Regions from separate parts of the Homo sapiens genome. Here all the other regions are linked to region 2. The links come from fine-mapping of genetic effects on gene expression. A gene starts in region 2. Each other region holds a variant in brackets. All regions are shown on one strand. Distances are from middle to middle.

Region 1 (2,639 bases), 40 kb before region 2:
GCAATGCCCCTTTAGGAACTATTGCTGGCAGAGGGGAAACGGCCATACGTATGCTTCAGTCTTTGCTGGGCACTCTGACGACAGCCCTGAGAGCCAGTGACACAGGTACATCATGGGCTCAAGAATTCAGGAGGGTCTCAGTCCTGGTTTGGGAATGGAGCCTGCTGTCACGGTCTGACTAATAGCTGAGGAATCCCTAGTTATGGCGGCAGAATGTATCATAACGATGTTTACTTTAGGGCTTGGCAGTGACCTCGTTTATTATCTCAGGCTTTAGAAGAAATGAAGAATGGGCAACTCTTTGCATTTGGGTAGGGAGCTGGCTTTGAGGTGGAGGGGCCACCCATCCCTGTGTATCTCTCCTCATTGAAGGTTCTTGGGGCCGGCTGACAAAATGGAGATCAACACTTCACTGGTGTGTCTTGAATACTTCTGTAAACTGCTTTGATCTTGAAAATGTGCAGATTATTGGTGAATTTTTTCAAGTTGTGCTTTCTCCATTGCTGGCAAAGAAAACAGAGTGGTAGCTTTTCCAGGACCGATTTCTTTTATGTCCTGTTAGGCTAAAGAATGAACTGAAATGAAGGATAAATTATTCTTTCAAGTGTAAGAAAACATGTAAGAAGCAGAGTACACGAGTGGAAAGTGAGTTAGGCCAAAAAAAAAAAGAAAAAGAAAAACAAACCCTTCACACATCACCTAAAACATCCCTGCAAATGTAGAGAGATGGAGAAATCATACTTTCCAGAACCACTTTGATAAAGCCCTTGTGGTGTGAGGCCAGCCATCCTCAGCATCCAGTTAAGGGCAAGGCTTTCTATCAGCCTTCCAGGCTGCAGCTAACCAGCTCAGGGCTATAAAGGCCAGGCCACCAGTGGCCACCAGGGGGCTTCCATCCCTCCTCTTCAGCCCTGTTAGAGTTCAGCCACCCCTTTAAGTCAAACTTTGAGCAAATATTTAATGAGTGTGGATTATTGGTGATTTTCCAAGTTGTGCTTTCTCCATTACCGGCAAAGAAAACAGAGTGGTAACTGTCTAGGACTCGGTTTCCAGGACCCAATTTGAAGAGGCACCAGATCATTAGTGCACCTAAAAGGCCCAAGTATCTAAGTCCTCCTACGACCAGAGGGAACGGGTGTCGAACAGGACACCAGAAGGCGAACATCTCCTGCAGTGATTCTGTGTCTCCCTGCATAGAATGAGGGGATATAAGGCCCAGGCCAAGGCTGGTGTTCTGTTGGTGAGAGGGAGAACCTGGAAATTAAGCCAAAGGACATGGATGGCAGAGTTCAGAAGCTGAGGTCTGGGGTAGGGGTGGCCTAGGGACCCTTGCCAAGTTATTATCCTAATTAAGGAGATGGATTCTTCTCAACACTAAAGTTAAGAACCCTCATTGAAACCTATTGCTAATCTCTCTGCTCCAAGTACTTCTAAAATGGGTTTCAAAGGTCA[T/C]TGGACGTTAACCTTGGAATCCTGAAAAGGGTTCAGGGTACTGTGGAAAGGACTGGGGCCAGGAGTTTCAAGGTCTGGGTCTGGGTCCCAGCATTGCCTCTTCCTGTTTTGTGAGCTTTGGTAAGTTATTGCACCTCTGCACTTATGGTAGACTGGTTGGCAAAAATGTCCACAAATTCTTCTTTTCTCTAAAGATCCACGCCTCAGGTAGTTGCTTCCACACTCTTTGAGCTTCTTTTTTCTTTTTTTTTTTTTTGAGACAGAGTTTCACTCTTCCCTCTTGTTGCCCAGGCTGAAGGGCAATGGCGCGATCTCGGCTCACTGCAACCTCTGCCTTCTGGGTTCAGGCGATTCTCCTGCCTCAGCCTCCAGAGTAGCTGGGATTACAGGTGCCCACCACCACCACACCTGGCTAATTTTTTATATTTTTAGTAGAGACGGGGTTTTACTATGTTGGCCAGGCTGGTCTTGAATTCCTGACCTCAGGTGATCCACCCAACTCAGCCTCTCAAAGTGCTGGGATTACGGGCATGAGCCACTGTGCCTGGCCTTCTTTGAGCTTCTTACTGCGGCCAAAGGGACAACAGTTAACAGAGACTTGAAAAGCACTTGTGCCTTAGGATTGCCTATTTTTTTTTGCTCTTTGGAATGCTGAGAACACTCGGTGAAGAAGGCCAAGCTAGCCTGTTGAATGGTGAGAGACGTGTGCAGCAGAGATAATTTATACCAGATTCACCAGCCTGCCAATGGCCAGTCACTCAGATGGAGACTGTCCTAGACCATCCAGCCCTGGCTGAGCCTCCCCAGGCTATGAGAGCCACCCTGCTGACCCAGAGAGTCATGAGAAATAATAAATCCTTGCGGGTTTAAGCTAGTGAACCCAGTGTGGTTTGTTACACAACAAAAGCTGACTGATATAGGACCTTGGTTATTTATTCTGTGAAATGACCATGGTGAGGTAGAATGAGAGTTGCAGAAAGCCTCTCACTCTATTCAGCTCTGACTTCCTCGGAATGGAATCCTAAAGAGACACTTGTTCTGGAGAAATTATTTCACACTAACTTCAAAAAAAAAAAAAACTCCACTTTATTCCAAATGCTGAAAACATCAAATTGAGGGTGGGGAGATTAAATAAAAATCCAGTGGTTCACAAATGCATGAAATGTAGATTCTATCTGCAATGACTA
Region 2 (2,800 bases):
ATTCTATTCCTAAGTCAGAACTCACATTATGTCTGACCGTCCACTACGCCCTCTCCTTGCCCTGAAGTTGAAATGGATAAACAGAATCCCATTGCTAAAGCGACCTTCAACGGGGAAGATCCTTGGGAGAAAGACTTTGCTACAAGTTTAAAAGCCCCAGGTAACCCTGGCCCAAATCACTACCGGTGCCTTCACTCTGCACCTTCCCCATGACCAAGGGGGCACAAGGGGGGAGGGGGGAACCTCAGGCGAGGCTCCCGGAGGAAGAGGAACACTGGAAGCAAGGGAACCCTGAGGGTGAGGAGGGGATGCCTGGCTATTCTCCTTGGGAAATTATGTCCTGACCTTTGGCATTGCTTCCTAAAGGGGTAGACTCCCGGAGTTCTTTCTCCCAAAGACTTCAGGGATATCATCCTATAAAGTCTCCTTGCGTCCCTCCAGCCTCGAGTAACATTACTCAGCCTCCGAAGGGCAACGAAAGACTGGTAGCACCCCCAAGCAAGCACATTCTCCACACTTCCTCTGCTCATCCCAAACCTCGCTCCTTCCCACCTCCCCACCAACCCCGCACCTGACCCGTGACAGACAGAACTGAAGGAGCGCAGCCCGCAGACCTGGAAGCCGGGTGCAGCCTCCAGGCACGTGCCCCCGCTCCGCCTCTGCCTAAGTCAAGTGGCCCGGGCAAAACTACTGCCAAAACAGTTGCTCTTAGGTGGGGCAGGGGACCTGCCTCCCTGCATCCACCCGGCACTAGCTCAGCACCCCCGCCCCACAAACCGTCCCCGCAGCCGCGCACGGCCCTCTCCGGCGGCGCACTCACCTGCAGCTGGGCTTGGCTGGCGTTGCCCGCGGCCGCGTCGGGCCCGTCGGCGGCTCCCGAGCCGCGCAGCACGGTGATGTGCAGCGTGAGCAGCAGCAGCCCCAGCAGCAGCAGCAGCTCGGCCGCCAGGCGCACCATCCTTTTGAGACGCGCGGCTTTAGGACCCGGCGCGGCGGCCGGCGGCGGCGGCGGTGACGCCGGGGGAGGAGGAGTAGGAGCCCGGGAGCCCGGCAGCGCGGCTCCCGCCTCGGCTCCCGCCAGGGCTCCGCTTCCCGGGCCCGCGGGGCTGGCGCTGGGCGCGGCGGGGTGTGCGGGGCCGGGGGAGCAGGAGCTGCCGGCGCCGCCGCCGCCGCCGCCGCCGCACCACGGCGGAGCCACCGCGAGGCCGGGGGTGTCCAAGCCGGCTGCGGAGCAAGCCCCGGCGCTGCCTGGCGGCGGCGGCGGCGGAGACGGAGACTGGGTCCCGGGACAGCCCGGGACCCGGGCCGGGCCGGAGGCCACCCTGCTGGCAGGGGGCTGCGGGGTCGGCGGCGGGGCGGGCGCAGCCGAGCCCCCGAGCGCACATGGGCGCCCCAGATGTGGCCGCGGCGCCGCAGCTGGAGCGGGAGCGGCCGCCAGAGAAGCGCGGGGAGGAGGAGGAGGAGAAGGAGAAGGAGGAGGAGGAGGAGGAGGAGGAGGAGGAGGAGGAGGAGGAGTAGGAGGGCTTCAGCTGCGGCCGGGAGTTACCTCCACGCTTGGCGCCCCCGCCCTCGCCGCCCCGAGCCACTCACCCGGCAAGCCACCTCCACTACTCTCCGCGCTCCTCGGGGCCGCCTGCCGCGCCGCCCCGCACTCGGAGTCCCGGGGAGGGCCGGTTCCAGATGGGGGCCCCGGGCACACCGAGGTTGTCACGGTTTGGCGGTAGCCGGGGCGCCCTCGGCGGCAGCGTCAGCCTGCCGGGCTGTACCAAGTGCCCGCTGCCGAGGTCGCTGTGACGGGCGCGGGTAGAGCCCTTGTGCACACTGAGGCTCGGGGCTGTGGGTGGGTGGGGTGGTGCCTGGGCTGCTTTAGAAACCTTTATTGGCAAACTGGAGCTGGAGTTGCAGTGATGGAAAACGGAGGGGGCGCCGGACAAGCCATGCGTCTGCCTGCGACCCCTGCCTGAAGCAGTCGGGGGAGAGGAGGAGTGCCAAAGTGTCGTTCCGAAGGGTCTTGACACTTGCTGGGCCGCCCGCTAGCCGGGCACGGCTGTTCGCGGATCCGCGGCGCCCCGTAGAGCCTGGGAAGGGAGGGGAGTCCGACTCTCTAGGCGTTCGTCTGGTCACGGGCGCAGGTGTTGGCTGGAAGCTGCAGAGACGCAGTGCCCGCGGCTCAGGCGCTCAGGAACTCGGAGTGAATCTCAGCTCTAGTGGGCTTGCCTCTGTGGGGGGCTCATCCCGGGGGTGCCGCGCCCAGAGGGGATTTGGGGGCTGGCGTCGCGCAGCTGTCGATCCCGGGCCACCGCCTCATGACCGCGCTGCAGCCTCGGGCTCCCGCGTGCGGCTCATGCCTTGCAGTGGGCGGTTGGCGAATGGAAGGGCTCTGGGATCCGGCTGAGGGCGCGGAGTCCGAGCGTCAGATGCTAGAGCGAACTGTGTCGGTCCGTGGCACCGCGCACTTCCCTCCTTGACCTTGCTCGGGCTCCCGCCTTACCGAAGTGACTCGGAGTAGCGGACGCTCAGTCCGGCCGGGACTTTTATACTGCGCTTCCCCTCCTCCTACCCGTTCCCTCCCTTCCTCCTCCCCAGCGCCGGCCCAGCCCTTCCCTCCCAGCGAGCCAAGACCTAGTCCACGCGTTCGCACACAGCCGCGTCGCACATTTCCAAGCCTTTCCCGCGTCCCGGACCCCAGTGCCTCCGGGATGGAGCCTCCGAATTCTCCCTTGGTGAATGAAATTAAATAAATAATCAACTCTTTCTTGACGGCACGCCTCCCTTTCCCCCTCCCCAATTTCCTACCTTC
Region 3 (2,800 bases), 33 kb before region 2:
TCTGATGAGGGGGCAAGTAATGGCTGAAGTTGAGAATGAAGGAAGTGATATTGTCTTCCCAGAGGGAATGACTTGTTGTAATTCATATAGAGGCTTATAAGTGCTAATAGATGCCCTAGTGTCGCACTTCTTTCTGTCTACTCTACCTGCAAAGTCTTTCCTTCCCTTATCCACATAGAAAACTCCTATGCATCCTTTAAAACCTTATTTAGATACTGCCTTCTCTGTAAACCTTCCCTGATCTTCAGCAGAGTTAATCCCTCCTTGCTCCTCATTACTTCTCTACCATATATATACTTCTTTTCTTTTTCTATAAATTATTAGACATTTACTTATTTTTGTCCAGTTTCTGGCTAAAAACACACACACAAATAATGACTGAACTGTAAACTCAACTGTACAATGGGGTAAATTACATTAGCCATGTTAACATCTTCAAGTCCCTTATTACTTGCTAACAACAAAAAGAGCATTTTATCCATTTTTTCAAATTCCTCTGCCACTGTCCTAGTCCAGGTTGCCATCATTCTCTCTTCTATCCTTCAAGTCTCAGCTTAAATGTCACCTCCAGAGAGAGAGGACTTCCCTGATCATCTTATATAACCAGTGTTCTTTCCCACCCTTTAAAAGCTCCCCTCTATCATTCTGCTTATTTAATTTGTAGTATTTGTTAGCTGAAATTATTCTATTTATGGGCTTTCTTCTGTGTTGTGGCCCCTACCAGGATGTCAGAACCATGAGGCAGGGACCGTGTCTGTTCTGTCACTTCTGTGCCTCAGCACTTGGCCTAGAGCCCAGTACAGAGTAGGACCTCACTAAATGCTCTCTGAATGAATGGAAGGGACAATGAATAGATGGAAAAGGAAGGAATGACAAACAGGATTTCAATGCCCAATAAGTGTGGCCACAGTTGACTCCTCCTACATCTCTCGAACCATGTGTGGATTCTGGGATGTGGAAGGATGAGAAGAAGCTCTGGCAGAGGTGGAAAAGTTCTCCCTGGCTCTGTTCCTGTGTTGGCCCTTACCTGTGTGGTGACCCCGAGTCCTGGCACAGGATGGCACAGTCATCTGCCTCTGAGTGATATCATGGGTAGTGCCCAGCTTCTCCCTTTGCCCAGAGAGAGAATATAGAGACTGTGCTGGAGGTACCAACAGCTCTTGCCACCTGCCTGTGACCAAGTCACCACTGAGCACCCAGCAAGTGCACCAAGGAGCAGCCCTGGCAAAGCAACAGAGAGCAGC[A/G]GGGGTTTAGGAAGCAGGTGCAGAAATGAGGCTCAGCAGGAGATGCGGGGGGCAGGTATTTTGCTCTCTTGAATTCAATTCTGATTCTGAACATTTTCTGAATCTGCTTGCTTTTCTTCAAAGTCAAATATGAATTCAAATATTTTCTATTTGTATATACATCTGTTTATACTTATATATACACATATTTAAAGTATATGTATATGGTTATATAAATATAAATATATATTTGCAGATATAAATACACATTTGCTTTATTTATTTATTTATTTATTTTTGAGATGGAGTTTTGCTCTGTCGCCCAGGCTGGGGTGCAGTGACGTGATCTTGGCTCACTGCAACCTCCCCCTCCTGGGCTCAAGTGATTCTCCTGCCTCAGTCTCCCAAGTAGCTGGGATTACAGGCATGTACCACCATGCCTAATGTTTGTATTTTTTTTTTTTTTTTTTTTTAGTAGAGATGATGGGGTTTTGCCATGTTGGCCAGGCTGGTCTTGAACTCCTGACCTCAAGTGATCCGCTCACCTCGGCCTCCCAAGGTGCTGGGATTATAGGCATGAGCCACTGTGCCTGGCCCATAAATACACATTTATAAGTGTGTTTTTATGTGTGTGTATAAACATACACACACACATATATATATATATATGGATATGGATGTGTATGTGTTATTTTAATTTTAGCTTTTTTTTAAATTTTAAGATATCTGAACTAGCCCATTGTTTCCTAGCTGAGCTCACAGAAAAACTGATAATGATACTGAGTTATTAATTTAATTCATGTGTTCTCAAAATGGGGGCCCCAGGCCAGCAGTGTTGGAATCGCCTGGAAATGTGTTTAAAATGCTGATTCTCGGGTCCTATCCCCTGTGGAATCAGAGCTTCTGGGGTGGGGCCCAGCAGCAGGTGTTTGAGCAAGGCCTCCTGGCGATTCTCTGCAGGCTCACATCTGAGAACCTCTGCTCTCACCAAGAGAAGGTGAGGAACAGTGGCTGATAGTCGGTAAGGAGCTATCATTCTGAATGGTACTTTGGCAATGGGAGATGCTTTCCAGGAAACACAGCGCTCTCAAAGAGTGCACTTTTATCTTGGAAAAGCACAATCAGATCAACAGCGAATGAGCTCCAAGGCCTCCCATCCAGCATGGGGAGACCCTCTGAGTGGTCACCCACTCCTCAGGAATGCCCCTATGATAACACCGTGAGGGAAGGCAGAGCTCCTCACCCTCTGGGTCCCTGGGTGAAGGAAGCTGCACACTGAGCAAGTGACATAAGAGATCAACACGCAGGGTGAGAAGATCAAAAACCCTGAAGGTGGAGGATGAACTGTGAGACTTGGTTCCTTCCTGCTTTTCCCTGTGCCAATAAATGCTAGCTTTGCCAGGTCTGCTTGGGTAGCAAGTACCCCAAATGGAGCAGCAACAGGCCTCCAACTGATTTCTCCCTCGCTGTGTGTCTGTCTCTAATTAAGCCACACAGGTCCATGGGGAAGGACAGGTTGGTTCCAGATTGGCTAATGGATGAGATAAACTTTTCTAGCTCAGAGGTCTGGCAGAAGA

The links.
Region 1: its variant is fine-mapped to the expression of ISM1 in whole blood (INTERVAL, PIP above 0.99).
Region 3: its variant is fine-mapped to the expression of ISM1 in whole blood (TOPMed, PIP above 0.99).

Annotation. Positions count from the first base shown.
Region 1 is chr20:13,260,495-13,263,133 of GRCh38, reverse strand. All of the region lies in intron 1 of ISM1 (isthmin 1), which reads right to left. It also overlaps a transcript of TASP1 not described here. Among named protein-coding and RNA genes, the nearest start is that of ISM1-AS1, 22 kb to the right of the region's middle. RefSeq lists a silencer at 718-1,012. The variant T/C (reference allele first, on the strand shown) is at 1,453.
Region 2 is chr20:13,219,935-13,222,734 of GRCh38, reverse strand. It overlaps ISM1 (isthmin 1), which reads right to left and starts at 1,461. Exons shown (of 6, transcript NM_080826.2): 1 at 821-1,461. The coding sequence starts at 958. It also overlaps a transcript of TASP1 not described here. RefSeq lists silencers at 1,030-1,099, 1,559-1,678.
Region 3 is chr20:13,252,955-13,255,754 of GRCh38, reverse strand. The region is part of intron 1 of ISM1 (isthmin 1); the gene reads right to left. It also overlaps a transcript of TASP1 not described here. Among named protein-coding and RNA genes, the nearest start is that of ISM1-AS1, 15 kb to the right of the region's middle. The variant A/G (reference allele first, on the strand shown) is at 1,245.